4 linked regions of the Homo sapiens genome follow. The protein of the gene in region 4 interacts with the protein of the main gene of each other region in a biochemical or structural test. Each region holds a gene or a part of one and is shown on either strand. Other genes may lie near its edges. The genes, in order: KLK1, PLG, CD93 and KNG1.

Evidence for each region.
Region 1: the proteins of KNG1 (region 4) and KLK1 form a complex in vitro, tested with the Homo sapiens proteins (one study listed by BioGRID).
Region 2: the proteins of KNG1 (region 4) and PLG form a complex in vitro, tested with the Homo sapiens proteins (one study listed by BioGRID).
Region 3: the proteins of KNG1 (region 4) and CD93 form a complex in vitro, tested with the Homo sapiens proteins (one study listed by BioGRID).

The regions. Positions count from the first base shown.
Region 1 is NC_000019.10:50,820,645-50,828,478, reverse strand, and holds the start of KLK1 (kallikrein-1 preproprotein), read left to right. Parts: upstream 1-4,691; 5' UTR 4,692-4,730; coding exon 4,731-4,776; intron 4,777-6,607; coding exon 6,608-6,767; intron 6,768-7,834. Other genes in the region: KLK15 (kallikrein-15 isoform 4 preproprotein), read left to right, coding at 664-817, 1,318-1,601, 1,722-1,858, 2,531-2,683.
Region 2 is NC_000006.12:160,712,011-160,719,447, forward strand, and holds part of PLG (plasminogen isoform 1 precursor), read left to right. Parts: intron 1-975; coding exon 976-1,115; intron 1,116-2,783; coding exon 2,784-2,904; intron 2,905-4,634; coding exon 4,635-4,753; intron 4,754-6,283; coding exon 6,284-6,446; intron 6,447-6,682; coding exon 6,683-6,828; intron 6,829-7,437. UniProt on the Homo sapiens protein: Plasmin dissolves the fibrin of blood clots and acts as a proteolytic factor in a variety of other processes including embryonic development, tissue remodeling, tumor invasion, and inflammation. In ovulation, weakens the walls of the Graafian follicle.
Region 3 is NC_000020.11:23,083,221-23,091,273, forward strand, and holds the start of CD93 (complement component C1q receptor precursor), read right to left. Parts: upstream 3,105-8,053; 5' UTR 2,973-3,104; coding exon 1,039-2,972; intron 755-1,038; coding exon 730-754; 3' UTR 1-729. UniProt on the Homo sapiens protein: Cell surface receptor that plays a role in various physiological processes including inflammation, phagocytosis, and cell adhesion.
Region 4 is NC_000003.12:186,713,099-186,720,755, reverse strand, and holds the start of KNG1 (kininogen-1 isoform 1 precursor), read right to left. Parts: upstream 3,398-7,657; 5' UTR 3,214-3,397; coding exon 3,019-3,213; intron 652-3,018; coding exon 541-651; intron 1-540. UniProt on the Homo sapiens protein: Kininogens are inhibitors of thiol proteases.

The sequences.
Region 1 (7,834 bases), on a different chromosome or scaffold from region 4:
AGTGGCCACATGCGTTTGACGTCTGTGACAATTTGGTGACCGTGAATGACTGGTTTCAAGTGACCACCTGTCTGAACCTGTATCCAGTGCCCCTGTCTCCACCCCCAACCACAGAGGACTTCTTGCCCTCTGGTCTGTTCCCCTTCCTCTCTCTCCCAGAGTCTTATAGCAAATGGGGTGGGGGCTAGAGTTCTGGAGAAAACAGGCAGCGGTTGTAAATAAACAACAGGGCAGGCGGAGCATGGTGGCTCACACCTGTAATCCCAGCACTTTGGGAGGCTGAGGCGGGCAGAGCATTTGAAGTCAGAAGTTTGAGACTACCCTGGCTAACATGGTGAGACCTCGTCTCTACTAAAAATACAAAAATTAGCCAGGTGTGGTGGCGGGCACCTCAGCTACTCGGGAGGCTGAGGCAGGAGGATCACTTGAACCCAGGAGGCGGAAGTTGCAGTGAGCTGAGATCATGCCACTGCACTCCAGCCTGGGCAAAAGAGTGAGACTCCGTCTCAAAAACAACAACAACAACAAACAAAAACAGGGCAGGGTGTCTTGAGAAGTTAGGGGAAAGGCATAGGCATATAGTAGTTAGGGCAGGGTGCAAGGAAGGTGTAGGAGGCAATGTAAACGTCCCTGTCCTCAGGCATCCTCTACCCCTTCTCTTAGCAGCCCAGGATGGTGACAAGTTGCTGGAAGGTGACGAGTGTGCACCCCACTCCCAGCCATGGCAAGTGGCTCTCTACGAGCGTGGACGCTTTAACTGTGGCGCTTCCCTCATCTCCCCACACTGGGTGCTGTCTGCGGCCCACTGCCAAAGCCGGTATGAAGGCAGGGGCTCAGGGTCCTGAGGGAGCCTGGTTCGGGGGGAAGAGCTCCTAGATTTGGGGGAAGACGGAGGCAGACGCCAGAACTCCTGGGTTCTGAAAGACGAGGAGGCCGGATGTCAAGCCCCTGGGTTAGGAAGGAGTGTGTGTTTCAAAGCCTTCGATCTCTGAAGGAGGAAGGAGAAGACTAGTTCCAGCTTTTGAGCCTCAGTTCTAGGGATGTGAGAATCCTGGATTCGGGGACAGACCAGGAGGGGGCTGGGAGTAGTTGGAGGGGATCGAGTTCTAGGAGTGTGCCTGACTTCAGACTCGTTGGTCCTTGAGGAGCAGGGGCTGGAACCATTGGCTTCAGGGTCTTGGGAAAAGGTAATGGGATGTCGAGATTTCTAAAGGGTCGGGAGACCTCGGGTTGCCCACTCTTTGATCTTTCTGTCCTCTACTTGCGGGTAACCACTGGCCCGCACTCCACTGGCGGGAAAACCACTCGCCCGCACAGCTTCATGAGAGTGCGCCTGGGAGAGCACAACCTGCGCAAGCGCGATGGCCCAGAGCAACTACGGACCACGTCTCGGGTCATTCCACACCCGCGCTACGAAGCGCGCAGCCACCGCAACGACATCATGTTGCTGCGCCTAGTCCAGCCCGCACGCCTGAACCCCCAGGTGCGCCCCGCGGTGCTACCCACGCGTTGCCCCCACCCGGGGGAGGCCTGTGTGGTGTCTGGCTGGGGCCTGGTGTCCCACAACGAGCCTGGGACCGCTGGGAGCCCCCGGTCACAAGGTGCGTGAAAGGATGGAGCTGGATGCGAGGCCTCAAGGAATCCTATGCTCCAGGGCTCTTGGGCGGAGGGGACAAGGGCCGGAATTTATGGATCTGCTCCAAGTCCACTGTCTTCCCCAGTGAGTCTCCCAGATACGTTGCATTGTGCCAACATCAGCATTATCTCGGACACATCTTGTGACAAGAGCTACCCAGGGCGCCTGACAAACACCATGGTGTGTGCAGGCGCGGAGGGCAGAGGCGCAGAATCCTGTGAGGTCAGAGCCTAGAGGGGCCATCAGGCGGAAGAAGAGGGATGGGGACAGGTGTGGGAGTCCGGATGGGGTTGGATTTTCTTTGCTTTGGGCCAGAGAAGATGCTAGGGTTAGGCTTGGAGATGGAGTAGGAAGAGAAGTTAGAATAGGGGTGAGGTTGGAGTTGGGGTTATAGGTGGGGATTGCGTTGTTTGAGGTGGATAATGTGATAGTTAGTTTGAGATGGCATGGGTTGGGGTTGAGAATGGGAATGGTTTGGTTTGATTCTGGGTGGGAAATACGTCAGGGTTGAATTGGGATGAGGTAGATTTTGTTTGGAATGCAGAAGACATGAAGATTGAGATTGGATTTTGAGATGGGCATGGGTTTGATTTGATTTTGAATGGTGAGGATGTGGGCTGAGTTGGATTTAACTTAGTACAGTTGCACTGGAGTTGCATGGGGGTGAGATTGGATATAGGTTGGGTGAGTTGTATTGAGCTGTGTTGAATTGGGGTTGGGGTTGGGGTTGGGTTGGCTCTGTTTGGGATAAACTGGGCTGTATTGAGTTGAGTTGGGTTGGGGTTCCCTGGGATGGGGATGGATTGGGTTTGGGGTGAGATTGCAAATGGTGATTAGGATGAGGATGAATCCAGGAGGTTTCACTCAACCTGAGACCCCCTCTTTTCCCCACAGGGTGACTCTGGGGGACCCCTGGTCTGTGGGGGCATCCTGCAGGGCATTGTGTCCTGGGGTGACGTCCCTTGTGACAACACCACCAAGCCTGGTGTCTATACCAAAGTCTGCCACTACTTGGAGTGGATCAGGGAAACCATGAAGAGGAACTGACTATTCTAGCCTATCTCCTGTGCCCCTGACTGAGCAGAAGCCCCCACAGCTGGCCAGCAGCCCCGCCTGACATGGAACAGAACGGAGCCATCCCCCAAGACCCTGTCCAAGGCCCAGATGTTAGCCAAGGACTTGTCCCACCTGAGGACAAAGCTGGCGCTCAAGGTCACCTGTTTAATGCCAAGATAACAAAGCGCTGATCCAAGTTGCTCTGTAGGAATTTCTGTGACTTTTTTCTGGGGTCAAAGAGAAACCCCGAGACACTGTACACTGTTCCTTTTCACCCACCACCCCGATCCCTAGGTGAGGAGAAGCGGCTTGAAGCAGGGCTCCATTCATTCAACACACATGACCACCCGTGTGATCTTGAACAAGAGGCCCAATCTCACTTCGCCTTGGTTTCCTTATCTGTAAAATGAGACCATCTTATTGCTGACTTCAAAGGGCTGTTGTGAGGATTAAATGAGATGATTCGTCTGAACTGATTAAAATCGTGTCTGGCACTGAGTAAATACCCTCTATCTCTGGATCCCAGTTAAAGGACCTAACAGACACTAGATTACCAAGAATGGCTTTTTCTTTAAGGTTTAGTTCTGGGCCGGGCATGGTGGCTCACACCTGTAATCCCAGCACTTTGGGAGGCCAAGGCGGGCGGCTCACTTGAGGTCAGGAGTGCAAGACCAGCCTGGCCAACATGGTGAAACCCCATCTCTACTAAAAATACTAAAAAAATTTAGCCGGGCGTGGTGGCACACGACTGTAATCCTAGCTACTTGGGAGGGTGATGTGGGAGGATCGCTTGAACTTAGGAGGCAGGAGTTGCAGTGAGCCGAGATCGCGCCACTGCACTCCAGCCTGGTGACAGAGCAAGACTCCATCTCAGAAAAAAAAAAAAAAAAAAAAAGATTTAGTTCTGGGCTTCCTGGTAGCCATGGCAAAAAGGCAAATACTGTCCTTTCCTTAGCCAGGTCCCTGATATACAGCAGAGGCTGGAACTCTGAGCTGCTTTGATTTTACCAAAAAGCCAAGACAACCTGTTGGAAGCCTATGGGTTTACCATTGAGGCTGCAGGAATCTAGTTCCTAATTATCTTCAGAGACCACAAAATGTGATGTTCAAGGTCGCTGAATGTTGAAGTACATGAACCTGGCTCGTGAGACCTAAATATTGTACTGGTGGTGGGGGGGAAGGGTCATTGGAATCTGTGGTTAGCCTGATCTTGACCTGGGAGGGAAGGTTGTCCAGATCTCTGGGACTTTGGAGGACAGGACGTTGAGCACCCATAACTGGGAGCAAGAAGTGGGAGGCTCATTGAGACCCCAGCATTGTTTGGGAGGGACACTGGATTTTGTAATGCTAAAGAACTTACCCTGGGAGACCCCTGAAACTTCACATTCCTGGATCTGGAGGCACTAGGAATGTGGTGATGTGTACCCCAAAATTTTATTATGAAAGGAACAGTAGCTTTGGGGACCTAGGTCCTGGGTCTGGGAGTGCAAGAACCAGGGCATTCTGAAGGCCAAGGCTTATATTTCAGGGGGAACTGGCAGCTGAGATGCTAGTATCTTGGCTCCGAGTGGTGCAGGGAATCAGAGCCCTAACTGCTGGTGTTTGAGGGCACCAGGTCTGGGGGTGCAGGGCCTTAATTGAGACTGAGGTATATGGGGCTTTGTACCAGGGGTCACTGATTCCTCCGTCTTCCTGTTTCTGCTTCCCCTCAGTCCCCCCTTGCCTCACTGGCTGCTCCCCAGAGCAAAGCCCCAGAGCCACAGGCCCTGCCCCACCTGGCTTCAACCCCAGGAATGCGTCCAGCGTGATCCAGGGCCTGCAGAACAGGTGCTGGTTCTCCCTCCCCGTCTACAGCTCTGGGGATCGGAGGGGGGGGGGGCAATTGTCCAGCCCCCAGGCAACAGGGGAAGGGCCTTGGCCAACATCTGGGTGCCAGCAGGGCAGGGGTGGGGCTCTGAGGGGATAAGGGCTTTTAAAAGCCTCCCCAGGGAGGTTCCCCAGTTCCTCCACCTGCTGGCCCCTGGACACCTCTGTCACCATGTGGTTCCTGGTTCTGTGCCTCGCCCTGTCCCTGGGGGGGACTGGTGAGACAGTGGGGGGATGTGGGAGGGGGAACGGGCCCTGATTCTCTTGCTGGCCTCACATCCCCCCCCGATAAGACCTTCCCCTCCAACACCCCACCCTCATCCCTCTGGCCCACAGTCTATCCTAGTCCGGGGTGCCCCGGCTCTTATCTATCTTGCGCGGCCCCACCCTAAACTTCCACCCCCGCTCCTCCATGTTGTCATAGTGCTCACTCCCACACCAGATTCCTGCTCCTCCCAGGAAGCCTCAGTACTTTCTCCTCTTCCCTAGCCAACGCCCTGTCCCACCGCTTTACCAAAGGGGCAGATTCTGGGCCATCTCTGTCTCTCTCTGGAGGACCCCAACCCTCCCATGGGCTTCCCCCACCCCACAGGACTCTGATCATCCCCTCCTGCCCCCTAGTTCCCTGCGGCCACCTATTTGGCTCCTGAGTCTACAAATCCCACCACACTCCAGTGACTTTTTCCATCCAGCTGTCCGCTCTCAACTGTGTCCTCCAGACCCTGACATCTGGTCTCCCCAGTCCTTCCAGGGTCCCCCAAATTTCACCAGAAAACCCTGCTTCCCAAACTGGCATGTGGGATCCCCCATCTGGTATGGGGGGGGGTCTGCAAATGTCCCTTCCCACCCAGCACCCCCAGCTCTCCCAGGAAAAACACCACACCCTCCCACCACATGCTCCTTTCCTTGGGGAAGTTCCATCCCGCCCCAGGCCCCAGCCCTTCTCTGCCTGAATTGTTCCTACACAGCTCTGGTTTTCTGGAACCCCACCCCAAGGATCCTGAATGCCTTCTCAGCCAGCGCTTCTGCCCTGGCCTCCCCCAAGTCAGTATGTGATTCTACAACCTCACGTCAAGTGGGTCCTGCATTGCATTCCCACAGCTGCTTGGCGCCTGTTCTCACCACTTCTCCAATCCTCTTCCTAGGATTGCCTCCAAGAGGACCCCATATCCTTCCAGTACCCTCAGACCATGAACCCCATCCCCATGAGAAACGAAGATCCCATCCTTCACCCTGTCCGAGAAGGACTGCCACTCACGCCTCCCTCCTCCTGAGCCCCGTCCCAGTCCTGACCGCAACTGTGTTCTCAGGGCCCCAACCTCCCCTCAGATTGCCATTCCTGGTTCACAGGAAGGACCCCAAAACCTCTCGGAAGCCCACCTCTAGCCTTAACCATAGCCCTTTCTTTTACCCTTTAACCAGGAAGCCCTGAAATCTAACTGTCCCAGCCAAGCTGGCCCCTTCCAACCCCAATGTAGGGACCCCAAGTCACCCCCAAACTCTTCAGTCCAGATGCTCTTCTTTACCTCTCAGACCTGGTTCCCTAAAGCTGCATCCTTTCCTGAACCTCAAAAGCCCAACCCAGGTCCTGTTTCCCTAGCCTAGGAGCCCCTTAGCCCTCCAGATTCTTCCTCAGTGAGCCTCTGATCCTGTCCCACCCTTGGCGCCTTGATCCCTGGTTTCCAGAATCCCTTTCCACTCCCCTAACCCACCACCTCCCATCCCCCAGCCCCAGACCCCAAATGACCTGACGCCCAGATGCAGTGTCTGCTCCAGACACTGTCTCCTGTCTCCTACCCTGATCCCTGGAGGCTGCTCTACTGTCAGAGCACAAAATCTCCCCACCAGGTCCAGCCACCACTCCAAAAGCCCAGGGAACAGTCCAGAGTCCCACCCCTTCCCAACACCCCTTGCCCATGTCCCCAACCTCCAGCCCTGGTCCTCTACCCGCAATGTCCCTTCAGACCCACAGCCCAGCTCCCTCTCCTAGCCTTGTCCCTGGCCTCTCCTGCCAACCCTGCCCTTCCTGACCCAGCACCGCCTCTGCAGGTGCTGCGCCCCCGATTCAGTCCCGGATTGTGGGAGGCTGGGAGTGTGAGCAGCATTCCCAGCCCTGGCAGGCGGCTCTGTACCATTTCAGCACTTTCCAGTGTGGGGGCATCCTGGTGCACCGCCAGTGGGTGCTCACAGCTGCTCATTGCATCAGCGAGTGAGTAGGGGCCTGGGGTCTGGGAGGAGGGCATCTATGCTGCCACAGGATTGACAGGCCAGTGGCATTCCCCTTGGATAACCTCAGGCAAGACTGGGGGGCTGAGGCAGAGAGGAAGGCTCTGGCGCAGGTCGCCTGGCAGGGCAGAGCTGGGCTGGACACCCCTCTCCAAGGCTGCCTGGGTCTCTTGGGATCTGGTTCTGCTTGTGTCTCTGTGTGACTGTGTTCTGGTCTCTGTCTTCCTCTCTCTCCTCTGTCTCCTTGTCTCTGCATCTCCCCTGTCTCTGTCTGTCTCTGAGTCTCTCTGCGGCATCTCTGTCACTGTGTCTCACCCTCCATCTCTCTACCCATCTCTCTCTCTCTGGGTCTCTACCTCACCGCTCCCTCATCCCTACTAAACACACACCCAGATGGACCTAAGGGAGGCCCCAGAGTAAAGGAAGGGCTTTATCCCCAACTTGTGTGCCTGGGAGGGGGCGCCTCTCCCTCTGTCCAGCTCCCCGCCCCACAGGATATCCCTCCACTCTGGAGAGACACAGGGAAGGGCTGGTTTCAGCGGGAGCTGGGTGGGGCAACTGAGGGAGGAGGAAGGAGGAGGCGGGGCGAGAAACGCGCGGGAGGGTGCTGGGAAGGGAAGGGGGCCTCGACCTTGGACTTCAGGCCAGGCCACCTGCCCCTGGGGAGCCCGCACCACAGCCCCAGCTGCAGCTGAGCCGCTCTCAGGCCTCCCCTCCTCCCTACCTGCCCCCACCCTCCCCACCTGCCCCCACCCTCCCCCAGGGCCTCCCTCCCTTTTCTCTCCCACACTCGGTCACTCCTGCTTCCTCTCTGCCTCTGTTTCTAGTTCTCACTCTGACGTCCCGCGTCCTTTTTCATTTGTCTGCTTCTCGCTCCCTTCCGTGTTCTGTTCCCTCTTCCTCCCTCTTCCCTGGGCCTGTTTCTCGCTGTCCCTGTCTTTTATCCTTCTCATCTGCCTCTTTTTTGCTCACCCTGTTTCTCACTGCCCTCCCCTCCGCCTTTTTCACCCCTCTGTCCTTTTGAGCTCTTTTTTGCTCTGTCTCTTCATT
Region 2 (7,437 bases), on a different chromosome or scaffold from region 4:
CACCTTTATCCATTCCCCCAACACTCAACAAATTGCCTTTGCTATATCCCTATGAGATGAGCAGATCAAATATTCCCCGTGAGTTAATGAAAACTGATTCAACCAAATGGCAAAGTCAGAGACTATCGGGGGCCATGGAGACACTCTGGGCCATTTTTATGAGGTAGTCTAGGCTCATCTTTATGAGGGAACTGAGGTCTCGGGGGGTGGGGGTTATCCCAAATAGGTTCACAGAAGAACCAGAAATAAAACCTGCCTTTCTAGACTGTAAGTCTTGTGATTTTCATCTAAATGGTTGTCTCTATACAGCAACTCATCTCTAGAACTGAAAATAAGCTTAAATCCCTCCTCCATCCCCAATAATTCAAGCTGCATTTCAGAGAAAACCAGGACTTTGGAATCAGACAGATCAACTTTGAATTCTTGATCTGCTTCTTCATAGCTATTTACACTTAGGCAAGTTTTGTTTTGTTTTGTTTTACGTTGCCACTCAGTTTTCTCATCTGTAAAATAGGGATAATAACACCTTCCTCAAATGGTTTTATTAGGACTAAAAGAGAGAATGTGTGGAAAGATGTTAGTGGAATTCCTGGCAGATAGTTCACATGGACAAAATGGTATTAACTACAAAAATTTTTACAGAGAAAACGGTAACTGACAAAAGCAGGTGTTTGGAATGAATTAAGACCATGGCAGCCTTTTGAGGCCTTTATATTTCTCCTGACTGTGCAATAAAAATATTTTGGCTCTCTAAGACTTGGCTGTCACAGTAGCAATGGTAATATTAGCTACTGTGCCAGAAGCAGCCTATCAATAGAGAAATTGAAAATCTGACCACACAAATGCTGCAGCACCCAGCTGAAATGCATTTGGATGACAATCTCAGATGGGAATCGAGAGCATCTCCTTCTGCCTTGCTAATAGCAAGCTGATTTTTAGAATATAGTCTAAGTGCTTCTTTTCCATCCTCCCCAGATTCTCACCTGCTACACACCCCTCAGAGGGACTGGAGGAGAACTACTGCAGGAATCCAGACAACGATCCGCAGGGGCCCTGGTGCTATACTACTGATCCAGAAAAGAGATATGACTACTGCGACATTCTTGAGTGTGAAGGTCAGGAGTGGTTCTAGAAAATGTTTTCATTTCTGCCCTTCACCTGTAAAATAATTTGTTGTAAAGCCCCTTCCCACAGGGATGTTATTAATAATTGAGTAACGTATTCACCTCTCGGAAAGAAGCAAAACCCCAGAATTAACCTGAATTTTTTTTTTTTCTGAGACAGAGTTTTGCTCTCGTTGCCCAGGCTAGAGTGCAACCGTGCAATCTCGGCTCACCACAACCTCCGCCTCCGGGTTCAAGAGATTCTGCTACCTCAGCCTCCCAAGTAGCTGGGATTACAGGCATGTGCCACCATGCCTGGCTAATTTTATATTTTTAGTAGAGACAGGGTTTCTCCACGTAGGTCAGGCTGGTCTTGAACTCTCGACCTCAGGTGATCCGCCTGCCTCAGCCTCTCAAAGTGCTGGGATTACAGGCATGAGCCACCATGCCCAGCAGACCTGAATTATTTTTATTAAAATGTTACATCAACATGTACAAATATAAAACTACATCTAAACTCTAAGTACAAACTTCTTATGCTTACAACTCTTACACAGTGTTAACCCCAAGACAGGTTTGCAATTAAATAGTTAAAATAAAACAACAAAATCAATAAAAATCAAATAAACAATATATATTTAATGTGGTAGACTTTGCTGTTTTGCTGAAGCTAAGCAAGGAACCAGTTTTTAAATCAGCAATCCATTATTTGAATGGACTGAGCAATTTAATAGTGCACCTCAAAGGTCAATGCTAAAAAATTTTAAAAAAATCCTACTGAAAAAACTGTCATCGTTTCACATTTCTGGCTACATTAGTGCAAAAGGGAATAAATAAAGGTGAGATTTGTGTGACAGTGTGGATATGGTACTGTGTGACAACTCAGTTCTCCCATCACTTCCACCTGTTCGAATCACGGGGATCCTTTATTTGTACACCATGTTATAGGTATTTGCCCTTAAGCACCACCAATGCATCACTGTTATATTAAGTCTGCCCGTTTTCCTTAGTACTCCATAAAATTTAAGTCACATATTACTCTGCCTCACCATGTTACTTCAATAATTCTGAATCAAAGTTTAAGTTTGTGAATAATTTTGCAAAAAAGAGCCAATCATGCTTCTCAACAACATAAAAAGAGAAGCGCTGTCACTTCAGGTGAATATTGTTCTCCCTGAGGCCATGAGCATAAACAAAAACTCCAGACTAAAACCCTGAGACGGTGCCAGGTCATTCAGCAGTCAGCGGAATGATCAGAATAATTTCATACAAAGTTTTAAAGATCATTATTGAAATGAAGATGCCAAATATTGAAAACTCCTAATGGAGAACGTAGACTCCTGGGAATATATGCACCCTTGGCTCCCCACTGGCCTGTGCATCCCGGTCTAAGGACATGGCATCATGGAAATTCTGAACTTGGTCATGACTACAATAGTTGAGGGAGTATTGACTAAAATATGTGAATGTTACGGTTTAAAAGGAAAATGACATTTGGATTATGCTAGAAAATCCTGAGTCCTTATTGCCAATTTTATTGCCAAGTGCCTGTTGTGAATTACATCGGAATGAGAGGCAAGTCGCACTTAAGTGAGTAGGATTCTGGTTTTTACTCTCTATTTTGCTTCATCCATTTCAGTTTTCTTCTTCCTCTCTGTCCTTCCTTCCCACTCTGTCCAGAGGAATGTATGCATTGCAGTGGAGAAAACTATGACGGCAAAATTTCCAAGACCATGTCTGGACTGGAATGCCAGGCCTGGGACTCTCAGAGCCCACACGCTCATGGATACATTCCTTCCAAGTAAGTCTCACTGGGAAAAACATTCCATGTTTAATTAAGGCTCTGCAGCTCTATCAGACATTTGCTGTCATTTAGATATTTTAGCATTCCTCAAGAAGTGAACGCCTGATGTTTTTAATTTCAAAGCTAACCTCCTCCCACAATATTGCAAGTGAAATACGCATTCTTGCTGCTCAAAATATGGTCCACGGGTCAGCAGCAGGGATGTTTTCTGAGAGTTTGTTAGAAATCCAGAATGTCACACCCTCTGAATCTGATTTGAATAATAACCAGATCCTCAGCTGATGTGCACACACATTCAAACACTAATGTCAGTAATGAATACATTAACATCTGTCTTCAGAAATGCACACACACATGTTGCTGGTGTATTTTCCAAATATTTTCCTTTTCTCTTTACTCCTTGTCTTTCTTTTCCCTTTGTACCAATGAGATTCAAGTCTCCTAACCTTTGACCTATGAGCAGACGTCATGGATTTTTGAATCCCTGATGTTTTATGTATATTTACATCAATGTGTTTTTCTGGAATGAGGATTCGTAACTTCCATCAGATTCTCTAAGGGGACCACGAATTTAAAATAAGAATAAGCTTCTTGCTCTAGAAAGTCATGATGGTTCCTAGAATAAGGTTTCGTGAGTATTCTATTTCACATTAATTGTGCTGGAAAACACCTCCCATTCCACAGTCGCTTCTGGTCTTCCTCTTCATTCTATGATGACTACAGGGCCATACCAGGGCTTTCAAGAATGCAGAAGTGAGGCTGAGCCACAGATTCCACGGTGGAAAGCAGCTCTATTGAATTTGTACACCTCCCATTCCAAATAGCTAGCTTAAAACACAGCAGCTGCCATTTTCCTTCAAAGGAGAAATACAGGAAAGACCTAAGGGTCCAAAACTGGGTAAAGGCACTTCCAGGAAACCAGAAGGAGAAGAGGATTGCTTAAGCCGCTGCTGGCTCCTCTTTCCATCCTGGTAAGCATTTACAATCAGAGAGGGAATGAATAAACGCAGAGGGCCACCAGGCATGGAGTGCATCCAACAGCCCTGGCCACTGGGCCCCACTGAGGAAGGATCCAGCCCCATACTGCATGGTGAGACCCTTGCAAGAGCACAGCTTCTCCTCTTGGTTTTTCTAAGCTTCAAGGCTGGTGGGAGCAGAGCCTGGTAGACCAGAAGGACCATTCCTTTAAGCTATGAAGATGCACATTTCTTGGCTCTGTTAGGTACTAGATGAGTATCTTTAGGCAGGGAGCACTTTACATTTTAAAGACTGCTATCATTTGTGGTTGAATAACTGGAATTTGCTTACATCAATTTTCCAGATGGCCAAAATGATAAGGTCACTGATTCTGTTGAGTGATTTTTACACATGTAAACTGTTAGAAAAACAGTGCTTGGCAGCCGGGCATGGTGGCACATGCCTGTAGTCCTAGTTACCTAAAGGGCTGAAGCGGGAGGATTGCTTGAGTGAGTTCAAGGAGTTCAAGGCAAGCCTGGGCAATAAGTGGGACCCTGTCTCTAAAAACAAACAAAAAAAAGAAAGTCCTTGGAATACAGGGCCAACCTTGTTTCCTTGTTGCCATCTCTGAACACAGCCTTCATCTGATTACCTCCTCCATGCCCGACTGTGCCTAGCACACAGCAGGTGCTCAATGTTTGCTCTTGAAAAAGAGTCTTATCCATGAATGTAAATGTTCAGTGCTACTAAAATCTTTCTTGTCCATTCAGATTTCCAAACAAGAACCTGAAGAAGAATTACTGTCGTAACCCCGATAGGGAGCTGCGGCCTTGGTGTTTCACCACCGACCCCAACAAGCGCTGGGAACTTTGTGACATCCCCCGCTGCAGTGAGTATGATGCACACCCAGATTCCAGGATTTGGACCTGCCCTGTTCTTGAAATCAAAAGAAAACATGTGTCAGTGCCTGAGTGCAGCCTCTGAAAAGTGACCTACAAGTCCTATGGGATGTTATTGGTCTTTATTTTATTGCTGGTTTAAAACAGTTATGGTTATTGGTTACTGTGGGTGATTGATCAGAGCGTCCATTTATCATGTTTTTCTTTCTTTGCAACTGAAACTTCTGCCTCAGGAGTTCACTGAAATGTAGGCTTTAGGTGTTGTTCATCCTATTCTCTCTGTGCTAAAGGGAAATCAGACCCATGCTCTCTGACACATGGATTTCATTTTCAACCAGAGTTCTAATAGTTGTTTTGTAAACAAAGAGTGTCTTTGTTTACAATGTTCAGGTCTGTGGGTGTCCAGTTTTTCCACCTTGGGGAGCAGAGGGTGAGTGGTGGGGGTGGGGAAGAGTTCAAGAGGAGAAGATGAAATGGCAGACCTAGTAGAAATGATGTGGAGTAAACAATTTTATCATATTTTCCTCTCTGAGAATTTGAAGCAAAGGATTACACACTAAGAGAAATACAGGCATGAAAGGTTAAAAAGGATTCAGTGAGGGTTGGCCTCCCCTCCTTTCCTCTGACATGTGTCCTTTGAAAGCGGAAGTTCCTCAGGCATTCTCCCTTTTTATGAATATTAATTTCTCTTTTTTTTTCAGTTTCTCTTTTTGTCATCTTTTTTCCTCAAGAATATCTTGATTTCTGGATGCACACACTTTTCCTTGGAGGTGTTTTTTGCCTTCTTTCCATGGACTCTTTCCCTGTTGTTTGGCTTTTATGGCATGTTGGGTGCCATTCAGTCATGTCTACTCAGTGAATAATTTATTCTTCAGGAAAGAGAGTGGACCTTTGGTGTATGTGAGAATTCGGGGTGTGAGGTGACACGTGTTGATACTTACCAGGTAGGAAGAACTGAGCAAAGAGAACATAGAAAGAAGCACCTACCCAAGGGTCTTTCTCTGAAGGAGTTCCTTGTGAAAGGGTCTCACAGGCATAGATGCTACTAAATTGATTTCATCTGAAAACATGAAACAATTCTCAAGTGCCAAATTCCAAGAGAGGCTGAGCAAAAGCCAAGACAGGCCAGAACACCCTGCAGCCATCCTCCTTAACATCCATCTGTGCATTCTCTATTTTAAAATTATTCATTGTAGGGCTGGGCACGGTGGCTCACGCCTGTAATCCCAGCACTTCCGGAGGCCGAGGTGGGCGGATCACGAGGTCAGGAGTTCAAGACCAACCTGGCCAATATGATGAAACCCCACCTCTACTAAAAATACAAAAAAATTAGCCAGTTGTGGTGACACGCACCTGTAGTCTGAGCTACTCGGGAGGCTGAGGCAGGAGAATGACTTGAACCCAGGAGGCAGAGGTTGCAGTGAGCTGAGATCGTGCCACTGACTCCAGCCTGGGCGACAGAGCGAGACTCCGTCTCAAAAAATATATATATTCATTGTAACTTATTTTGCCCATTCAAGCAACACCTCCACCATCTTCTGGTCCCACCTACCAGTGTCTGAAGGGAACAGGTGAAAACTATCGCGGGAATGTGGCTGTTACCGTGTCCGGGCACACCTGTCAGCACTGGAGTGCACAGACCCCTCACACACATAACAGGACACCAGAAAACTTCCCCTGCAAGTAAGTCCCCTCCGGTCTCATTCTGCTGCTATGGAATGTGAAATCCCATTGACTTTGCCTTAGTTTTAGTTACTGTAGGAACGCAGGATAAAGTATTCTGGAAGAAAAACTGATCTAGTCATAAGTAAAGGAAATGAACTTTAGCACGTTTTTTCCCGTAACGGTTGTTCTCAAAGCGTGGTTCCCTAGACTTTTTTCTTTTTGGAAAGCTAAACTCACAATCACTTCTTTTTCAGAAATTTGGATGAAAACTACTGCCGCAATCCTGACGGAAAAAGGGCCCCATGGTGCCATACAACCAACAGCCAAGTGCGGTGGGAGTACTGTAAGATACCGTCCTGTGACTCCTCCCCAGTATCCACGGAACAATTGGCTCCCACAGGTAAGCAAGGGTATGGGAGCTTACTGAGGGCCCAAGTTTTCTCCTTATTTTTGTATACCAGTGGCATCATCACAATATACAGTAGCTTTGTAAGTTTAATGCTATTGTGGTCAGAAAGCCTGCCCTTATGATTTCAGTTTTTTTAGATTTGTTGAGGTTTGTTTTATGGTTCAGAATATAGCCATCTTGGTGAATGTTTCATGTGCTCTTGAAAAGAATGTGTCTTCTGCGGTTGTTGGGTGGGGTGTTCCCTCAAGGTCATTTAGGTGAAGTTGGTTGCTGGTGTTCTTCTGTATCCTTACTGATTGTCTGTCTCCTCCTTCATTGACTACTGTGGATGAATGGTGATGTGTCCAACTTTAACTGTAAATTAGTCTATTTCTCTTTTAGATCGTAACTCTTTTGTATATTTTGAAGCTCTTTTGTTAGGCACATATGTATTTAGGATGGTTATGTCTTCTAGATGAAAGGACCCCTTTATCTTTATGTAATGTTTCTTCTTATCTCTGGGAATATTTCTTCTTCTGAAGTTCTGAACTCTCTTTATGGTGATATAAATACAGTCTCACAGCTCTATTTTCACTAGTATTTGTGTGATATATCTTTTAA
Region 3 (8,053 bases), on a different chromosome or scaffold from region 4:
ACTTCACAAACACCTGTAATGCACTTCAAGCAACTTTTCTCATATTTTTCAAGCTTCCTTTGCAAATAAACCCAAGGCTATTAGAAATGTAAGAACTAAAGAGGCACTTCCTGCCTCCTTGCCACCTAAGAGGTTAATTGCACTTCTGGCCATTCTGGAGGATGTCAACAGTATCACATTTAGCAAGACTTGTGCTGGCGAAATGGAGGAATGCAAATGTAAAGAAATGTTTCCAGTCCGAACATGTTCCCTTTGACCAAAAAACCAGATCTTCTTACCTAATTGAATAATTAATTGATTTAGTTTTCATCCTAGGAAGAGAAACAAATCATTTCAATCCTAATCAGCATGAGCAACTCACCTTTTCCTCTTAGATGGTGGAAGTGAGCAGAGAAGATATTCAGGGGAGCCCCTTAGCCCCGGCCTCCTCACACCCTGATCCGGAATTGGTCACATTGGAATTTGAAAAGGGAGGGGGAGTAACAATCATTATAGAGTCACGAAATCCCCACCGTGGCACGCCAACACACAGCTTCCACTTCAGGAACATCAAACACCCGTAGAAAATACCTGCATGTTCCAAGGGGCCTTTAAGGAGGAGACTTACAATTGTTTGCTAAGATTCCAGTCCAGTCTTTCAAAAAAATGTGGGTGCCCCTTTGGAATGGGGAGTTCAAAGCTCTGAGGATGGTGGCTGGTGACTCTAGTGTCTCTAGGGCCACCTCACTTTCAGCAGTCTGTCCCAGGTGTCGGACTATGGGAAACAAAACAGACAGCGTTGGAAGCCATGGCGCCTCTGTGCCTGCACGTCCCCACCTTGGGAGAGAGCCCCACGTGCGGCCGTGCTGCAGATGGGCAGTATGCTCTAAGGGGGCCCGAGTGCCTGGCGTGGGGGGAGGTTGAGGGGTCAGCTGCAAGGACCAGGGTGTGTCTGCCCACAGGAAACCTGGGCCTGCTCTTGCTGCCACCTCTTTGTACTGTAGTCAGTGCCCCCATGCCTGCCCATCCCCTCCCCCGGTCACTCAGGGCCCCCTTTACCTGTACTGGTTCTCCATGGCCCTGCTCTCAGCTCGCTCTGGAACCCAGGAGTAACTGTCTGCCGCATTCTGGGGCTTCTTCTCCTTCTTCTCCTCCCTCTTCGCTCTCCGCTTGCGATAGACCAGTAGCCCCAGAGCCAGGGCCAGCAGGAGTAGGATGGCCACCACGGTGCCTAGGATGTAGAATAAAAGCAGCTTTTGCCCGTCAGTGCCATCGTTGTTTTGTGTGGCCACGGAGGAGTCCCCACCTGCAGGCTCCTGGGGGCCAGAGGCAGCTGTGGCGTGATGGATGCTGGGCTCCCTCCAGACGCCTGGGGACCCACTGGGGGCCAGCATCTTGAGTGGGGCAGATGTGATGGGGGCGTCAGATGACAGCGAAGGTCTACTTGTGGTGGGTGTAGCCTTGGGGGTGCCCTCGGGGCCCCTTGTGGGACTGGCTGTTGCAGCACGGGGCACGGTGCTCCCTTCTTTCTCTCCTTTGTCCTCCTCATCGGGGGGCCCAGATGGTGGTCCCAGAGACACAGGCCCCATGGTGCAAGAGACCCCATTTGGGGCCAGCACCCAGCCTGGCAGGCAGCCACAGTGGAAGGACCCTTGTGTGTTGAAGCACAAGCTGTCGCAGAGGGGGCCCCCCGGGCCCACACACTCATCCACGTCCTGGCACTGAGTCCCGTCCTCCCCGGCCAGGACGTAGCCCTCCTCACAGGAGCAGTGAAATGAGCCATCTGTGTTGGTGCAGCCCTGGGCGCAAGGCGAGCGACCCAGAGCACACTCATCCACATCCTGACAGGCCCCCTCTCCAGGACCGCCCGGCTCATAGCCAACCCAGCATTCGCAGCGGAAGCCCCCAGGGGTGTTGACACACTCCTGGGCACAGGGGGAGTCCTGGCATTCATCCACGTCCACACAGTCCAGCTGACTCGAGTCCAGCTGGTACCCTTGGGGGCAGCGGCACGTGTAGTTTTTCCCATGGGGTCCCAGGACGCACGTGGCCCCCCCACGACATGGGCTGGAGCTGCAAGGGTTTCGAGAGGCACAGGTCACCAGGTCATCCAGCAGCCGGAATCCTGGTCGGCAGCCGCAGAGGAAGGAGCCATCCCCCCCTTCAAAGCAGTCCTGGTGGCAGCCCCCATTGTTGAAGTTGCAGCCATACTTGGGGCTGACACAGAGGGGGCCCGAGCTGCCCCAGTCGAACACATCGGGGGCCTTCTCCTTGCACAGGAAATAATGACTCTGAGTCTCGTCCTTGTCACCTTCCCCACAGGCTACATTGGCCGCAGAGGCAAAGGGCACAGCCTCCAAGGAGGAACTGGTGGTCTGGAAGGGGGTGGTGTAGGTCACCTGACCTGGGCCCCCCAGGGCCAGAGGCCGGCACATGCCTTTGAAGCTGAACTTGCACACGAAGCCCTCAATGTTACTTCCGGGGGAGCCTGGGCTCCCACAGGGGCCCTCAGACCACTTGGGGAGGCGGCTGGGAAGGAGCGGCTGGGACAGGTCCAGCAGCAGAGACACACAGCGCTTGGAGATGCACGAGTTCCGGAGCTCCTTGTGCCAGTTAGAGTAAGGCGTGTCCTCCCCCCCGCCCACCCAGCTGAAGCCCTTCAGCGGCAGACTAGGGTCCAGGCACTTGCCCTTCTCTCGCTGGAGCCCAATCCAGAACTTGCTCATCCTCGCCGTCAGGGCTGCCTCCCGCCTCAGGAGCTGGGCCAGTACTCGCTGGACGTGCTGGGCCTCCTCCTTGCTCTTCACAGTGGCCAGGTTGCCCCCGTTCTGGTTGCAGTGGTTCTGGGCCTCGGCAGCGCTCAGCTTGCCCGAGTGGGCCGTGTAGCAGGCGGTCCCCACGCAGACCACCGCCTCCGTGTCAGCTCCCGTCCCCGCCCCGGGCTGGGTCAGGAGCAGCAGCAGCAGCAGCAGCAGGCCCATGGAGGTGGCCATCCCGGTCTCTGTGTGGCCCTCTGCGGGAGGCGAGAAGCCCAGCGGCGACAGGAGCTTCTATCTCGGCTCCCAGCTGGGCCCCAAGGGGAGCTGAGGGGTGAGCTGCAGCCACTCCGGCGCAGAGAAGGACACAAAGGCTGAGGGCTTTCCACGTCCCCCTGACCCAAGGCGCATCCTGTACTGTTGTACTTCTTATTTCTCACCGGATGTTGGGGCTTCCTGCAATGAATAGTTCTCTGACTCCTGCTGCCTTCATCACGGTGCTGTTGTTCATAAAAGGAGTCAGGCAGCTCTGCCGGGTCCCTGGCTCAGCACTGTGGAAACAGCGACGGGGGGAAGACGTTACAGCCCCGAGATACTGCCGGCTTGATTTTGGCTCCATTCTCTTTCTCATGGCATGAGGAGCCTCGGAGGCATGCCATGGAGTGAGCAGGGGCTTTGGGGGCTAGGAACTCGAGGAAGCTCCCTTAGTAACCCATAATAAAATTCCACTTTGGTTTGCAAACCACCAAAAGAGAAAAAAAAAATTCTGAGACTTAAGACACAAGGCCATGGATGGTTATAATTTTCAGCCTTTTTTAGAAGCAAACTGGACTTTCCTTTTGCCTAGCTCATGTTCTCTGTTGACTTTGGGAGCCTTTTTTCTTTTATCCTCCCATCGTGAACCTTAAATAGACAGGCATTTTTTAAATAGGATACGGGTCGTGGGAATGTCTGGGTTTTCAACATAATGCCAAGCTCCTCGATAATGTTAATCCAAATTGGGTGAAATTTGGCAGTTCTGGGGGTTTCATAGTGGAAATATTGCATTGTGAGGTGTCAGGGTCACAAAAAGCATCAGAAAGAAAATGAAAATGTGTCCGGCCTCGTGGCGCAGGGCTTGCAGGCTCACTTCCCCCGGCTCAGGATTCCTAGCAAGGGCCGGAAATCTGGGCAGGGAGCGGGAATCGAAGCCCGGGCAGGCCCTCCCGCGACACCGCGACTCGGCAAAAGCCAGGGACTCACAGTGTGCTTTTCCTGCAGCCACAGACCTTTGCTCATTGGTTGGGATCCCCCAGGAGGGGACCCTGAGACAGGATTTGGGGAGACTAGTTTATGTGGGAGGGGAAGTGAAACAGACAAGGAGGAAGCCAACCCATGATGACTTGCTGAGAAGGTGACCCTGGGCTGCTGGAGCCAGTGCCAGGAAACTCTGGGGGCCTGAGGGGACCACACCTCAGCACCATCTCAGCTGAGGGAGAGGCTCCACTGCTCTCCAAGTCCCCTGTCATTGGTAGCAGGCTGTATCTCTCACTTTGAGAGACTGACTATAAATTCTAGCCCTGCCCAGTGACCAGGGGTCTCTCTCACATAAAACTTGTTTCTATGGACAGACACCCTTGTGGCTCTCGTCTGACCCATGTCCAGTTTATTCCTATCAAGACAGCCACTTCCTAAGAGATCCCTGATGGGAGGAGAGTTGGGTTGGGGTGTGGGTCAGGGGAGATGCAGGAGGCAGCACAAGAAGACACAGGAAGCAACACAAGCACCGTGTCACTTACAGATCCCAGGGAGAGGGCAGTGCACCCCACGGGGCCAGCAAAAAGTGGGGAGCTGTCTGGGTCACAAACACTCACCTGGAGGGGGGTGAAGGGAGAGAGAGAGACCTGGGTCCTAAGCCTTTATTGGGGTCCAGGACGTTTCCCAAGCAGGTTTCCCAAGGGGACTTCTCACTGGTGGGTTTAGAGCAAACAGACACGGGCTCCGTGGGGTCCCTGTGGCTGAGAGGTGGGCATGGCGGCATGTCTGGGAAGTCCCTGTGGGGTGTGGAGTCACTGAGACCATCAAATGGGCTGTATCTGCCTGTCCCACAGGGAAATGGTCACCAGGAGGTGGGTGTACAAGGCAGATATCTGGGTTGGCCGCATTGAGGAACTGGGAGGGGGTGGAGCCCTAGACACCGTGTCAAGAGCAATAAACCCTGCTTCTGGTAGGAGAGGGTCCAAATTAGATTCAAAATGGATGCAATGCACAATTATAAGAATTCTCTACACAGCGGCAACTCTTTGGTGCTCTGCACTGACCGTGAGGGCCCCAGGGGAAGAAGCGCCACGGTGGAGAACACAGTGAACGCCTGTGGACCCGGCACCAGCGACCACCACAGTGGCCTCCATGGAGATGTTGAGTTGTCCCGGGGGCTAGGAGCTCGCTGGCTCCCCAAGGGACAAGGAGGCATCTCTGACTCCAGCTGGATACCTCCTAAGAATGTGCCTTAAGTCCTTGCATTTTAGCAAAGATATTTGAGACATTTTGGGAACTCTCCATAGAAGCCACCAGACCCTCCCTGTGCCCCTTCATTCATCCATCTGTTTGTCCATCCACCCATCTAACAATTGTTGATTAAGACCCTGCTATGCACTGAGTGAGGCACTGGATTCCAGGAGGGGATCCCTGCCTCTGTGATCCTGGAGTCCTGTTAGAGTGGACAACTTTGAACAAGTCACGGCACTGATGGCTTTATTGCAGGCAGCACAGGGGAGCGGGGAGGTCGTGGTTGATACAGGGGTGGCATCCTGACTGGGGGATGGGCAATTAGGAGAGACTCCTCTGGAGAAGACAGGCAGTCAAGCCGGAATCTAAAGGAGAAGCAGCTCAGATGTGGAATGGTGTCGGGATGGGGGAACAGCATGTACAGAAGCCCTGGGGACAGAGAGTGAGTGAAGGGCAGGGAGACCAAAGCCCAGGCAGTGGGAGGGAGGATGCAGGGGAAGATGGAGCCCTGTGAACCCCAGTAATGAAGGCTTGAGGCTTCGTCTTGAAATCCACGGGGAAACACTGAGGGCTGGCATGAGGCCTACATGTGGAAGGGGACTGGTCAGTGGACCCAAGCAGTGGGTGGGGGGGCCCTCAGCAGGTGGCCGCAGGTTTCCAGGCTGTGGAGTCCAGGTCAGATGTTCTCGGGGCTGGGTGGAGGTGGGGGGAAGGGCACCGGGCACGCAGAAGGACTGCATGGCTCCTGCCGGGAGCTGGGGTCCTGGAAGGCTGTGTCCGCTGGAGGTACCTGGTTCTGAGAACACAGGGGATTGCCTCTTGGGGCTCAGGGTCTCCCAGACCCCCTGTCCTTGTGACCTGCCTCCTCGGGACGCTAAGTGTGCCACCAGAGCTGGGTAAGCAGCCAGCTGTGAGGGGTCCAGGGAAGGCTGGTGTCCCTGGCTCCCAGTCAATATAGCTGGCCATGCATTTGAGTTTGGCAAGGGTCAGTCTTGTTCTCTGCTTGGGAGAAGCTTCATTTCTAAGGGTTTATTTACAAGCAGGTAACTTCTTAACATTCTGTAAAATCAATTCTGCAGCCCTAGCATCCACTCATAGCAGGGAGCCGTTCTCGTGGTCTAGGCCCCTGTTTGTGCAGCTCGGAGGTAGATTCCTCAGAGGTAGATTGTGATCTGCAGCATTCGCTCAGCATTCTACTTAGTTGGTGCTTAAGGATATGGGCTAAATGAGTGACTTTCAGCATGTTAGCCACTCTGACCCCCAGATCTTTGTCAAGATATCTTCTTTAGCTGTAAGTTATTCATCTTCCATGTGGGAACTTTCAAACCAATTACTGTTCACTTAGCCAAGTGATGACATCTTAAAGAAGAAAATGAACTAGCAAGACATATACTCTGTTTTTTATCCATTAACCTTGGAAGTATTTGTAAAGCACCAACAGTGAGAAAGACTATGTAAAATGCAGAAACTGCCTTGCCCTGGGGGTCCTTGGATTTTACTTTATTATTTTCAGTAACTTGGTTAACTCAGCCCCACTTCTCATCTATAAATGCAGAGGTGGGAACAGGGCCTCTGGAAACTTTCTTGCTCTAACATTAATAAAAGTGAAATCATGCTTAACTCTCCCCTCTGGAATTAGGGAGAAAGCAAGTTGGGAAGAGAGTGGACACTGAGACCATTGCTGAGCCCTCGACATACTGCACATGTAAGCAAACCTCTGTCTAAACTGCACACACCCAATTTCATCCCAAATTGACCCGCTGACTGCCAAGACACAGGGTAGTTTCCTATTCCTTGTCCCCCACATCTGACTTCCACTGTGTCCCTTCACCCTTTGGCTGATCCCTGCTGGGCTCAGGTGGGTTAATTCACCTGGGACACTTACAGCTAGGTTCTCTAGCTCCAGCCCCGCCCTTCTGTGTCCGCTCCCACCTATAGGGGACGCTCCTTAGAGGCTGTTCAGGGGATTCGTAGAGGCTGAGGGCATGGTGCTTCGACCTCAGGGGAGGATGAAGAGCTTGCTTTTCCTGGGAGGGATTTGGTGGAGTTTTACAAAGAATTTAAGATAGTCTGAATGCAAACTTTGAGGGAATTCTGCACCTCACATACTAAATTCCCCATGGATGGTGTTTCATCCCATTTTATTTAGAGAGCAGATTATACCAGACCTCTCCAAGGACCGATACTTAAACAGCAGGAATCAGCAGAAGGAGATGGAAAAAGTTTTTCTCGGCAGATCTTTGGACGGAAGCCACGTTAGGTGTTCTAGAACCATGGCGAGCCTAACAGCATGGCATGTACCCTGAGCAAAAGGCTCCTCACCATTTGTGTGTATTCTGCAGTCTTTATGAGTACTCTGAGCTTTCTTTTTAAATTGCCTTAAAAATTTACTTTGCACGATGCTGGAATGGAATGTTCTGATCTCAAATATGGGGCGAGTTTAATCTCAGTTATTTGGGAGCAGACTAATTGGTTTGTGGATCATTCAGGCATCCGGCCTGTCTTTTTCCTTTTTTTTTTTTTTTGTAACTAAAAATTAAATTAAAAAGGGAAACAAAGCACACTGCGTATTTCCTGGCATAACATGGTATATGGTAGACTCACAATGAGCAACAGTGGCACAGAAATGGTGGAGGAAATGAAACAGAACTGGAGTCACTGTGACCTGTCATTCTATGGGACCACTTAGGGATTTTGTGTTCAAAGTTTAAAACAGAAACAGAGTGAAAACTGTGAGACCTGATATTTTTGTTTGTCAGTACAGATTTTAGTTCATACATGAGGCGCTTAACAGAATTTGAATAACATTTTTGTAAAATTGAAATTTGTCC
Region 4 (7,657 bases):
GGCCTATATGTTAGGCATTTGGTTAAGATAGCCATTGTTATCAAAGTTATTTGCATAATTCATCTGATTTCATCCTCCAACAACCTGATGAGGTCAATATTATCTCCCATATACAGCAGAAAGTGCCAGTTCTGAGAGGTCACAGCTCCCCCGCTATCACACAGCTAATGGAAGGCAGAGTCAAGATTTGCACTTAACGTTGTGCAATGGAAGCACCCACCCCCTCCCCTCGCCAGCTCTTTGGCTTGGCCCAAATGTCAATTTGTTATCTCTCTGGAGTCTGAGCCACATGTTCTGGCTGGACACTAGAGCCCCCTTCTCATGGAAAGGCTTTCTCCATGTTTAACTGCTGGCTTCTCCATGATTTTTCTGTCTATACAAGAACACAGATATAAAGCATCTGACTTTTCTACACATTGGAATGTTTATTTGCATTTCTCATAAACAGGCTCACCAGTAGCCATCATTTCTGCATCAGTAAAAAAATCTGGCAGGGTCAACGGAGAAAACAGAAGGCCCAAGAATGGCCAATACACTTACTGCTTTTGCAGCATCCTTGTACTCACAGTCCTGCCAGGTTTTGCCACTTTGAACAGGACAATCCCCCTCCTTGATTTCGTACTTGAAGGAATAAAACGTGTCAGAGCCAACCTGAAAAGCAGCCAAAGATACTTAGGGTTCATCCAACTGACCCAACAGCAAATAATTCTAGTGGGTTCCGGTAAAGTTAGGAATATTGATCTTTGACTTGAGAGCAAAGCATTCACTTAAAATATATTTATATTTCTATCATAAACATTTATGTGAAAGAATGTTTATAATATATTCACAATGTACTTTTAAAGGTTACAAAGCAGTATGCATAGTATTAGCCCATTTTTGTCAAAACTGGTTTATATATAAATCTATGTCTTTTAAAAGTCTGGAAAGATACACAGCAAGCTGTTAAAATGTTTGTCTGTCAGTGGTGAGATTATAATTATCTTTCACTTTCTTCTTCAAGCAAACATTTCTTTTTTTTTTTTTTGAGATGGAGTCTCGCTCTGTCGCCCAGGCTGGAGTGCAGTGGCGTGATCTCGGCTCACTGCAAGCTCTGCCTCCCGGGTTCACGCCATTCTCCTGCCTCAGCCTCCAGAGTAGCTGGGACTACAGGCGCCCTCCACCACGCCTGGCTACTTTTTTGTATTTTTTAGTAGAGACTGAGTTTCACCATGGTCTCGATCTCCTGACTTCGTGATCCCCCCGCCTTGGCCTCCCAAAGTGCTGGGATTACAGGCATGAGCCACCGCGCCCGGCCCAAGCAAACATTTCTAAGTGGTCTTTTTCCCCTAATGAACGTATATGACTTTTACAAATTAGAAAAAGCAAACAAGAAAACCTTAAACAAATGTTAACAGTTATCTCTGTATGGTGGAATTAATTATGGGTGATTTTAGTACTTTTATTTGGTTTATTTTGTTTCCTACTTTTTCTTTTTTAAACAGCTTTATTGAGATATAATTTACATGCCATAAAATTTACCCACTAAAGGCATACAATTTAATGTTTTTTAGTATATTTACAACCATACCCACAATCTATTGGGTACCACACCACCAATAAACTGTTGCTTGAGATCACCATGAAGCAGAATTTCTCACATGACTGTACTAGATTATGAAAGAAAATGGCTCGATTTTACTTTCAGAAAAAATAACATGTCCACTGTGTTTATTTTCCTTTATCCCCATGTTGTCACATGGCTAGTTTTTTTTTTTCTGCTAAAGTAACCAATTGCTTGACATTCCCAGAGATATAGTCTTTTATAGTGAAATTTGTTTAAACATACTCTTGAAAGATTGGTATTTCTTTGAACCATGCATCCTGCCAGGATTTGTCTCCTGCTGGAGTGCATCATTGCAATAATATCAAAAACTAACTAAAACGTTGCTGTTAAACCCAGTACATTCAGCCATACAGACTTCTGTCTAATTCCGTAGAATCACATTAACCTCATTCCTCACTCCTCTTAGACATGCCCCATGAAGTACCCCCTCCCATTAAAGGTTTGGAGTTCTATAGTTTTTAGCCTAGGGCCAGAGACCCAGTGAATTCTTTTGCTGCAGTCTAACTAAATTCCTAAATTCTCCCTCTCTACTTGGTCCTGTTGAGATTTCTCCATCTACTTTTGTTTCATTTCACCCTAGATTCTACTTCTCTGATCATCCAGGAAGCCAACCTGCCTGAGGACGAGTCATACTCTGTCCTCCCACCCCAGGCCAGAGAGTGGTATCTGTCTTTCCACAAGTTGTAAGCTTCTACCTTTGATGATCACATATTTGGTAGTGCGTGATGGTGGTGGGTGGTGGGTGGCGGTGGTGGTGGGTGGTGAGGGGTGGTAGTGGTGGTGGGTGGTGGTGGGTGGTGGTGGTGGTGGGTGGTGGGTGGTGGTGGGTGGTGGTGGTGGTGGGTGGTGGGTGGTAGGTGGTGGGTGATGGTGGTGGGTGGTGGGTGGTGGGTGGTGGTGGGTGGTGGGTGATGGTGGTGGGTGGTGGGTGGTGGTGGTTGGGTGGTGGTGGTGGATGGTGGTGGTGGTGGGTGATGGTGGTGGGTGGTGGGTGGCGGTGGTGGTGGGTGGTGAGGGGTGGTAGTGGTGGTGGGTGGTGGTTGGTGGTGGTGGATGGTGGTGGTTGGTGGTGGTGGGTGGTGGGTGGTGGGTGATGGTGGTGGGTGATGGTGGCGAGTGGTGGTGGGTGGTGGGTGATGGTGGTGGGTGGTGGTGGGTGATGATGGTGGGTGGTGGTGGGTGGTGGGTGGTGGGTGATGGTGGTGGGTGGTGGTGGGTGGTGGGTGGTGGTGGATGGTGGTGGTGGTGGTGGGTGGTGGTGGTGGTTGTGGTGGTGGTGGTGGGTGATGGTGGTGGGTGGTGGGTGGTGGTGGTGGGTGCTGGTGGTGGTATGTGTGTGTGTGTGTGAGGCCTGGACTCCTAGTGATAGTACAAATCCCAAGTGACTTCAAGGTTAAACACAATTCACTCACCGTCTTAGTGGCTTCAGTTATGCGGTACAATACAAACTGGTTGTTACTTTGGTTTTGACTGTTATATTTCTTCAGAGCAGCATCCACAGCTTTAAATAAATCCTTGTCATTGCAGTCAATTTCCTCGGACTGTGATTCCTGGGTTAAACTTAGTAGCAGCCTGGAGCAGAGGAAAAGGATGGTAATTAGTTTCATGATCTAACAATCTCCCTCTAGGAGCTGAGGGATGGTTTCACCAAGAATCAAGAGCCAACTGGGATACTGAATTTGACAATCTCCAGCCTCTTGTTTCTTCTGTCCTCCTCTCTGCCTCAGAACTCAGGGCACTGGTTGGATTCCTGCTGCCAGACGCTAGTTGCCTTGTTCCCAAAGGTTAAATGGCTCTGCTGGGTTATCCAAACATATTTACAGCTAGAACATTGCAACACTGGGGTTGTTAACCTGCTCATTTGCATTTGAAAATCACGTGGCAGCACAGTGCATATTTCCAGGTGATTATACAACTTTATGTAGCAAATCAGAGCAGAATCTGATGAAGGAGGGGAAACAAGTGCCTACTAACTCGGTTATTCCCCTGTGACTTTTGCAAAGCCATTTTTGAAGGTCACTACATGGGTAAACAATGCAAGAATGAGTACAATGTGCAGACACATTTCATACAAAGTTTCTTTGCAGGATACCTACCTGCATAGAAGCAGACTGCTGTTAATTCTATTACATGCCTAAGAAGCTCATGCACAGGGGCATCCAGTGAGTTCCAGGAGTCCCATGCAGGACATTGGCACAACTGAAAATAAAATATGGGCGTCCTATCTGCTCTCTGGACAGGCCAGCCTTTCTCTGCTCAGTTGCATTAGTTCTGTAAAAGAAAATTGCTCCCAGGGTGGAGATAGAGGAAAAGCATAGGAAGGGATGGGTTGAGTGAAGCCCTGGATTCCCTATGCTTGCTTCTTTCTGGTTTGGTGTTGTTGGTTTGGCACAGAAAAAGATAGCCCCAAATATGGCTCTTTGGCATGCCGAGTACTTTGAACTGAAAGACATTAAAAAGGCTGCAAAAGCAAAGTCTCTTTCTTGCTTTCTCCTGCCCGTCTTTCTCCTGCTCCACTTCTCTCAAGGCAGGCCACAGAAGCTAGAATTTCTCTTCCCCAAGGCGGGTCATAGAACCCTTCTCCCTCAAAGCCAGCAATAAAACTTTATTATTCTTATTTTCCTCACATCAACACAGAGTGGGGAAACTATATTACAGAATGGTCCCCACCTGTAGACCAACATTGGAAAACTACAGTTGATAATCTCAGCAGAAGTGTGAGGCTTGATGGTATCAACATCCTTACTCCAGTAAAAATTGGCCAGGCACGGTGGCTCACACCTGTAATCCCAGCACTTTGGGAGGCTGAGATGGGTGGATCACCTGAGGTCGGGAGTTCGAGACCAGCCTGACCAACATGGAGAAACCCCATCTCCACTAAAAATACAAAATTAGCCGGGCGTAGTGGCACATGCCTGTAATCCTAGTTGCTCGGGAAGCTGAGGCAGGAGAATTGCTGGAACCCGGGAGGTGGAGATTGCAGTGAGCTGAGATTGCGCCATTGCAATCCAGCCTGGGCAACAAGAGCAAAACTCTGTCCAAAAAAAAAAAAAAAAAAAAAAAATTCGGCCTATTCACTCTGCTCCTTGTTCAGACTTTATTTTTTTAAAAAGTCTGTAGAGCCATGTTCATGAGGACAAACCTAATTTTTCTTTTTCTTTCTTTTTTCCTTTTTTTTTTTTTGACACAGGACATAGATGTTTGGACTATTTTCAATCTTTTTGTTTCTGATAAAAAATTATGTAAAGAAAATCTTTGTGCTCACCTATAAAATAGAACAAAGATTTCTTGGAGAGATGTAAAACATGGTTTTGCATCTTATTTTATATACACTTATAAATTTCAGGTTAAATTTATTCTTAGATTCTATGCCTAATTTTTTTTTTTTTTTTTTTTTTTGAGACAGAGTCTTGCTCTGTGGCCTAGGCTGCGGTGCAGTGGTGCAATCTCAGCTCATTGCACTTCCCGGGTTAAAGCAATTCTTCTGCCTCAGCCTCCCAAGTAGCTGGGATTACAGGGGACTGCCACTACGCCCAGCTAATTTTTGTATTTTTAGAAGAGACGAGGTTTCACCATGTTGGCCAGGCTGGTCTCGAACTCCTGACCTCTAGTGATCTGCCTGCCTTGGCTTCCCAAAGTGCTAGAATTACAGGTGTGAGCCACCGCACCCAGATGCTATGTCTAATATTAAAAGCTAGCAATGACTGAGCCTCAGCACTGGCGTCCTAACTACAAGGAGCACCTTTAAATTCATTCAAGGTTGATTGAATTGGATATGACTTTACTTTTCTGCCAAATCGTATTCCTCCCTAATTCTTGGAAAAGTTTTCATACTTTTTATGTGATACTAGCAATTGCACTCCCTTCCCCAGGAGTGTTGTATCTCTTCCCCTACTCCTCCCTCACACACACAGACACACACACACCCAGAGCCATAAGAACCAAAGACACTATGTGTGTGCAAATACCACTTAGTCTGGTACTGCTCATAACAAAGCCTACTTAGAAAACCAACCTGAGGGTTGAAGACTTCACAGTTTATGACATCATAGGACAAATCTGCTCTGCAGAATCCAAAGACGTTCAAAGAGGAGAGAAGCGTGTGTGTGTGTGTGTGTGTGTGTGTGTGTGTCTGTGTGTGTGTATGCATATGGGGAACTGAAGATGCCCAGCCAGAGTTGTGAGCTTCCAGTCTTTCAGCAAAGGAAGAAGAGCTTTAGAAAAATCAGAGTAATATGATCAGATCGCCCCACCAGTGGCTCAACAATCTGTCCTCGTGTACACTTTGAAGAAAGCACAGGTGGTGAAGTGTCTCATTTCAAGTTGTTGTGGTTTTCTGCCATGGAGGAAAGTGTTGAAAAAAAAGGGAACTATACAGCATAAAGATGGGTTTTCACAGATCCTGTCAAGGTAAGTGTCTGCTGGCTCTACCCTAAGTACAAGGGCTACAACTGGCTGGCACTCCTGTGCTCTAGAGGCCCCTAAACCCAGCTGTGAAAGGTGAACTAAGACAGGAGGATGGCTGTCTGCTAGACATGAGCAGGCACCAGCACTGGGCTTCCCCATGGGTGGTGGTGAGGAAAACCATACCATTGCTGCCTTGCCCTTAGGCCAACCCTTCTGCCCTGGAGACCTGAGTTGCCTGTGCTTCAACACCATTCTTCATTCTGCCTTTCACAAAATGTACCACCTAAGTGATAAGGTGAATATCATTTCACTGAAAACGTTCAAATGATATGAATATAAGAAGAGTGTGAAAAATCACCCATCCTGCACCCCAGCTTCTTCTCAGAGGTGCCACTGTCATTCATTTTATATGCTTCTCCTTCTAGCCTTCTATTCACTTCATGGCTTGTATACATTGCAGTCTATTTAATTTTGCATTTTCTTTCTTTCTTTCTTTCTTTCTTTCTTTCTTTCTTTCTTTCTTTGTTTCTTTCCTTCTTTTCTTTCTTTCTTTTTCTTTTTCTTTTCTTTCTGTTTTGATGGAATCTCACTCTGTGGCCCAAGCTGGAGTGCAGTGGCATAATCTCGGCTCATTGCAACCTTCACCTCTGGGGCTCAAGCGATTCTTCTGCCTCAGCCTCCCAAGTATTTGGGACTACAGGTGCGTGCCACCACACCTGGTTAATTTTTTGTATTTTTAGTAGAGACGGGGTTTCACCATGTTGCCCTGGATGGTCTCAAACTCCTGACCTCAGGCGATCCACCCACCTCGGCCTCCCAAAGTGCTGGGATTACAGGCATGAGCCACTATGCCCGGCCTAACTTTGCATTTTCTAAATGCATGACAAACATCAACCAACTGGCAGTATCTCTCATGTCTATTCCTCATTCTCATTGCCCTAATTCCCACTGCCTGGGTCTGGCCCTCATTCCCGCATACATAAAATAACTTCCAAGTTCATGTCCCTGTCGCCTGCCTGAGATTCCCCAGGCACCCTGGGGCCTCTCCCACTCACCCACTCTGTATGCTAGCTCTCAGAGGTAGCTCTGTGCTGAAGCACGCTGTGCTATAACCTGGAGCAGAGTCTGGAATGGGAGTAAGGTCACTGAATGGAATTCTAAGTTCCAGCACTCCTGTTCTCTACAACTTGCAGTGCTCCCTCTCTGATACATTAAGAAGGGTACATTGCTTTGTAGCACTCCTGTGGTACTCTGTAGTGCTCCTGGTCTGTCCTCCTGATTTCAGTTGTTTCACCAAAGAGGGAGTAGTTTATTTTGGGAGAGAGAAGGGAGGCTTCATGTCTTTCCATAATGTCTTCAGCCACTCAAATCCACTCCAGGTAAGCAAAGAATCGAAGTGAAAACAGTAGCCTTGTTTTGCCTTAAGATGAGCCCACAGGCTCATCTCCCAAATAATGACAGCTCCAGAGCCCACACAGAACTTCTGGAACCCCCTGCTTATATTCAATTATTCCCCAACACCCTTCTTTCTGATTCCCTACCCACCTAGAAGTAGTGGTGCCAGGAATTCACCAGGAATGCCTTTACCCAGACCCTCTTCCTATGCAAATCCTACCCATGCATCACTACACAGCTGAAGCCTCT